Homo sapiens: one gene and its partner. The protein of the gene in region 2 purifies or fractionates together with the protein of the main gene of each other region. This does not show direct contact. Each region holds a gene or a part of one and is shown on either strand. Other genes may lie near its edges.

What was found. The genes of interacting proteins can lie anywhere in the genome.
Region 1: the proteins of SRSF12 (region 2) and KIF1C purify together in Homo sapiens (affinity purification with mass spectrometry, with the first as the bait; one large-scale study listed by BioGRID). This does not show direct contact.

What each region holds. Positions count from the first base shown.
Region 1 is NC_000017.11:5,007,950-5,011,449, reverse strand, and holds part of KIF1C (kinesin-like protein KIF1C), read right to left. Parts: intron 1-3,500. UniProt on the Homo sapiens protein: Motor required for the retrograde transport of Golgi vesicles to the endoplasmic reticulum. Has a microtubule plus end-directed motility.
Region 2 is NC_000006.12:89,095,459-89,098,265, forward strand, and holds the end of SRSF12 (serine/arginine-rich splicing factor 12), read right to left. Parts: 3' UTR 501-2,807; downstream 1-500. UniProt on the Homo sapiens protein: Splicing factor that seems to antagonize SR proteins in pre-mRNA splicing regulation.

The DNA of each region.
Region 1 (3,500 bases), on a different chromosome or scaffold from region 2:
CAAGAAGCTGCTCAGGCCCAGGCTGGGGGTGAGAGCCCCAGGGTCTGGTCCTGTCCCTATCCTCAGCCCCTGAGAAGGCAGCTCAGAACCAGGTTTGAACACCACTGATTTAAGCAATCCTTAGCCCTGGTGGTGGGGGTCTTAGCAAGAGGAGGCTCCCTCCAAGACAAACTGTAGTTTTTTCCTCTAAGACCCAACTATTCCCTGTTGGAGCTACTCACACCAAACCCATTTCCCCATGAGTCTAACAGTTCTCTCTTCTGGCTTTAGACCACATGGCTTTTAAACATGAGAAGAGTTCATCCTCACCACCTTGAGAAAAATGTAAAAGTGAACTACCTTAAGACACCTTCTCACCAATCACACAGGCAAAGAGAAAAGTCTTACTAAGCCAGAATGTGGGAAAGGGCGAGGGGAAATGGGCTCTCTTGTATGTTACCCTTGGGAGTATAAATTGGTATGGTTCAAAAAATTAGCCAGGAGTGGTGGTGGGCGCCTGTAGTCCCAGCTACTTGGGAGGCTGAGGCAGGAGAATGGCGTGAACCCGGGAGGCGGAGCTTGCAGTGGGCCGAGATTGCACCACTGCACTCCAGCCTGGGCAACACAGCAAGACTCCATCTCAAAAAAGTAAAATAAATTGGTATGGTTATAATCTTCAGAGGGCACTTTGGCAATATAGATTAAAAAAAAAATTTTTTTTTTTGAGACGGAGTCTCGCTCTGTCACCTGGGCTGGAGTGCAGTGGCATGATCTCGGCTCACTGCAAGCTCCGCCTCCCGGGTTCACGCCATTCTCCTGCCTCAGCCTCCCAAGTAGCTGGGACTACAGGTGCCCGCCACCACGCCCGGCTAATTTTTTCTATTTTAGTAGAGATGGGGTTTCACCTTGTTAGCCAGGATGGTCTCGATCTCCTGACCTCGTGATCCGCCCGCCTCGGCCTCCCAAAGTGCTGGGATTACAGGCGTGAGCCACCGCACCCGGCCTAGATTAAAATTTTACATGGCTACCATTTGACCCAAAATCTCCATTTCTAGGAATCTGCTCTACAGATAACACCCATTTGTAAGACTATGCATTGTAGCCTTTTTTTGTAGTATCAAGGAATGGGAAACAATCTGAATGTCCATCAGTGGGAAGCTGGTTAAATACATTATCCTACATCTACACAATAGAATACCCTGACACCGTGAAAAAAATAAAGGAAGCTTTAAAATAAGGTATGCAGGCCAAGCACAGTAGCTCACACCTGTAATACCAGCACTTCAGGAGGCCAAGGCCAGTGCATCATTTGAGGCCAGGAGTTTGAGACCAGCCTGGCCAACATGGCGAAACCCTGTCTCTACTAAAATACAAAAATTAGCCCGGCGTGGTGGTGGGTGCCTGTAATCCCAGCTACTTGGGAGGCTGAGGCATGAGAATCACTTGAACCTGGGAGGCAGAGTTTGCACTGAGCTGAGATTGTGCCACTGCACTCCAGCCTGGGCGACAGAGTGTGACTCTTGTCTCAAAATAAATAAATAAAATAGATATGCAACTACAACTATTAGAGAGGCCGTGAATGTGAGTAAATGTGTATAGTTCTATATAACATATGCCTGTACATGTGTTATAACATCTCCTAGACAGCATCTCTAGGAGAACATTTTTTCTTTTTTTTTTTTTTGAGACAGAGTCTTGTCTGTCACCCAGGCTGGAGTGCAGTGGTGCGATCTCAGCTCACTGCAACCTCTGCCTCCCGGGTTCATGTCATTCTACTGCCTCAGCCTCCCTAGTAGCTGGGACTACAGGCGCCCGCCAGCACACGTGGCTAATTTTTTGTATTTGTAGTAGAGACGGGGTTTCACTGTGTTAGCCAGGATGGTCTCAATCTCCTGACCTCGTGATCCACCCGCCTTGGCCTCCCAAAGTGCTAGGATTACAGGTGTGAGCCACCAGGCCCGACCCAAGGAGAATATAGTAAGAACCCATAATGGGCCTGGCACGGTGGCTCACACCTGTAACCCCAGCACTTTGGGACTCCGAAGTGGGTGGATCACGAGGTCAGAAGTTCAAGACCACTCCGGCCAACATAGTGAACCCCATCTCTACTAAAAATACAAAATATTAGCCGGGTGTGATGGTGTGCGCCTGTAATCCCAGCTACTTGGGAGGCTGAGGCAGAAGAATCGTATGAACCCAGGAGGCGGAGGTTGCAGTCAGCCAAGATTGCACCGTTGCACTCCAGCCCGGGTGACAGTACAAGACCCCGTCTCAAAAAAAAAAAGAACTCATAATGAAGGCTGCCTCTGAGGGGAAACTTAAGGGTGGGAAGGATGGAGAGTTACTTTTTTTTTTTTTCTATAACAAAATGCTGTAAATTGGAGACTTTTCACTGTACACACCTTTTAGAACTATTAGAATGTTCTCTCTGGTGTGTATTACCTTTATAAGAACAATTAAAACAAGAACCCCCTCCTTTGGTCCCCAGGCTTTGGCAGGTGGCATCTCTGCAAGCTCTCCAAGGAAGAAACCTCCACCCCACCAGTCTCCCCAGTCCTTTCTGCTTTTCCTCCATCCTTGCAACCGTGGTGGAAGCGGCCCAGCTCCAGGTATACAAAGGTGGCTGGAAGCCATGCTGAGCGCATCCGTAGCCCCTCTTTCCACCTAGGTGTGGCTGGGTCCCAGAAGAGTCTGGATCCCTCAGAAGGACCCCAAAGCCCCAGGGTACCCAGCCCCAGACAAGACCCCAGACACGCAGCCTGGCCTACCGCCCACAGCTCTTTCACTCCCTCAATGTGGCTTGGGCCAGGCAAGGCAAAACCCCTCTCCTCTTTTCAGAACAGGGGTTCAGTGATCCCTGCTTGCTTAGTCCCCCAGATGGACCTGACTTTACAAAACAGAGAGGAGCCTTCTTCTGGTAACCCATCACCTCTTCCAGGCAGCCCCCAGTGACACTGTCTGGCTCAGAGCACAGTGTATCTGACTTAGGGCCTGATCCTCTGCTGCTTCACACCATGGTCCAGACGGGCTGGGCTGGTTCCCTGGTGGAACTGGAAGTTCATGCTCTGCTCAAACTGGCCTCTGCACCATCCCTTCACTGGTATACTGGCCTCTGCACCATCCCTTCACTGGTATGCACCGGTACAGCGGTGCTGGCTGTCTATATCCAGTGTCCTTTCTGACTGGTCAGTCCCTATGCCGGATGGTTATTAATATTTGGAGTATCATTCCTGCCTCCACCTGAGCCTGACCTCTCCCGCCCTGCTCCTTCCTTCCTTTCAGCAAAGATTTATTAGGTACCTAAAACCTGGCGGCAGGCACGTGTCAGGCACTGGCGTGTCCCACTCACCCCAACATGTACCCCAGGCTCTTCAACCTCATGTTGGCCCTACTCCTCCATACTTCCCAAGTCCTGTCCATCTTTCAGGTTCCACTTTCCAAACCACCTTCTCCAGGAAACCAGTTGCAGCATAGCTCCAAGCTACACGGGTGCCTCCATCTATAACCAACCCCTCGCTGCA
Region 2 (2,807 bases):
GCAGGTGTGAGCCACCAGTCAGCCAGAAATTTAATGTAGTTTAGAAGGATTACAAAAGTATTTCTACATACCTTTAAATTTTGACTAATTTTGCCTCTGGCAATGGGATCAAAATAAATGCAGCAATTCTTATTTGTAATGCAACAGCATGTCTTAGAACAGTTAGATCTCAAGTAAACTTTACAAATAAAGTACTGGAATTAATTTACATTTAAAAATAAATTAGCCCAGTGGCCTAAAATTAAATCCGAGGCTCCAAATAAAAATTTCAGCAAATTCCCCTATTATCTGTTAACACCGAAAAATATCAGCTGCTATAAATTATTTGTGCATTATTCCTGGGGAGAAAGCAAGCAAGCCGCTGTCATGGCAGTCTCTATTTTCTTTGACCCTAACTTATCCTCTATGATCCTGAATAAATGGTAGGTAGTACCCCTGCACTAAACTTGGGAAGTACTTAAATAAATATAGTCTCTTTAAAAGAACTGATCACAGATGTCTAAAATTAAAACGTTTGATTTATTAATAAACAAAGTATCTCTCTTAAATGGGCCAAGAAACAATTCTATGACAAAAGTGAACCCTGGAATATAGATATTCCCAGAAGACAATTTTCCAGGATACCCAGCCAAACAATTTTCACCTAGTCACAAAAGTCATTTTCATCGAAGCCTACAGTCATTCCTTTTTCTAATTCTATTCTCTCATTTCTTTCTAAACATGATTTTAATAAAGCATATACCTGTCAAAGACTTCTCTTTGCAAAAGACATAGGAACAGCAGTCAGGAAGAGGACTCTGAAGCCCAGTCACTCCACAGATCCAAAGTTTATGGCTGTGTGCCCTTGTAACTTAGCCTCTCTGCATCTGTTTCCTTGTCTGTAGTGGTACTAGGTTGGCGCAAAAGTAATTGCGGGATATTTACCTCATAAGAGTGTTGATGGTTAAATACAAGAGTGAATAACTTAAGACATATAGAACAGTGCCAAGCATGTACTAAATGCTCAAAAGAGTTTGAGCTATTATCATTCCAGCTTTTTCATCAAACCAAATGGTATCCTCCTAAGCAGCCCAGGGATTACAATGACAAACCTAGTCAGAGGTAAATCAAAGGATTAAATATGTTCAGGAATACAGAGATTTGTGAATACAGAGTAAAGATACTATAATCAATCCCTAGTTATTATTTTTCACAATGGTACCTAGTTATTATTATTTTTATAGATAAAGGGGTCTTGCTATGTTGCCCAGGCTGGTCTCAAACTCCTGGGCTCAAGCAATCCTCCTGCCTTGGCCTCCCAAAGTGCTAGGATTACTGGTGTGAGCCACTGTGCCCAGCCCCTAGTTTTTAAAATGATTTCACTTATGTGTATGAACCCAAACATTCTGAAAATACTAAAAATTTCTATCAATATCTGTCTTACTCATTCTTCAGATTATCCTTTAGATTTTCAGTAGTGCCACATAATTTTATAACTAAATTTTATTATAGCGGAATAATTCAAAGAGTTGTAGTTTTGAAATAAATTTTGCTATGATTAGAGAAAATCTATTCAGAAAGTACAATATACATTAATTTATGGCACTTGTCCAAATATTACCAGCATACAAATTATTGTTTAAGGTTGTTTCTTACATATGGGATCTAATATGCAAAGAAAACTGGAATTTGTATTCAAAACAAATAGAAGCAACACTGGCTCCTATATACTAAAAATATAAGACAGATTTTTTTCTTAAACACTCTGGATACAAATACTAACTGTATGGATTGAGAACTTTGAAGTTTTCATAATGTAAGTCACAAAGTATACAAGTAGAGCTCTATAAATATATCCCCTATAATAATCATATGCAAAACCATTCTATCACAAACACTACCAAAACCCTTTGAAAAACATAAACTACAACACATTTTCAAAGAAATTATTAGTTATAACAACTACAAAAGCAATAAATATCAATAAAGTTATTTGGCTGTCAGAAATGAAGGGCAGTATAATGTAAAATTCAAATACTGCAAAGTTGTTTTTTGAAGATGTAGTCTCGAGTTTCTTCTTCTTCTTTTTTTTAAATTTTAGAGACAGGATTTCACCATGTTGCCCAGGCTGGTCTCAATCTCCTGGCCTCAAGCAATCTGCCCGCCTCGACCTCCCAAAGTGCTGGGATTACAGGAGTGAACCACCACGCTTGGCCAAGTTTCTTAATACAAGGTACTAAACACTCTTTCAAAAATAATAAGACTTGTTCCATATAAAGTTGAGCAAGAACTCTAAAAAGAAAAAATTAAGCAACAGATGAAAAGTAGGTATGTGGAAATAATGGTATCAAATATGATTTTATACAAAATGTACCATTCTTCAAATGTGTAAGTCTTAATATGAATATTTTTGGATTGTGAGTGTTGCTCAGCCTAATTTTTAAAGAATTAGTCTCAAACCATTCAAAATCCAGTATTTCTCAAAAGTTCTGATATTACTAATGTGGTCATGGTGCAGGATGCAATTTCATGTCAACTTACCTATACTGTTCTACCCAATAAAAATATAACCTTTGAGCTTAGGAGAGAATGTATCTTTTGAATGTTTGATCTCTATATATATTCTACTTTTTGGAACATCAGAATTTTGTAATATGAACTAATATCCACCAGGAATTGGCCCAAGTTTAAACAGAAGACACAAAAGAGACATAGGTGTCAAACAGCTTAAGTCTGCTCTATGCAATTATACAGTCATAGTTACTTTTTACATGAAAGTGCTTTAAAGTCAAAAATATTTGTGTAAAAGGTATTATTAATAGTACTAA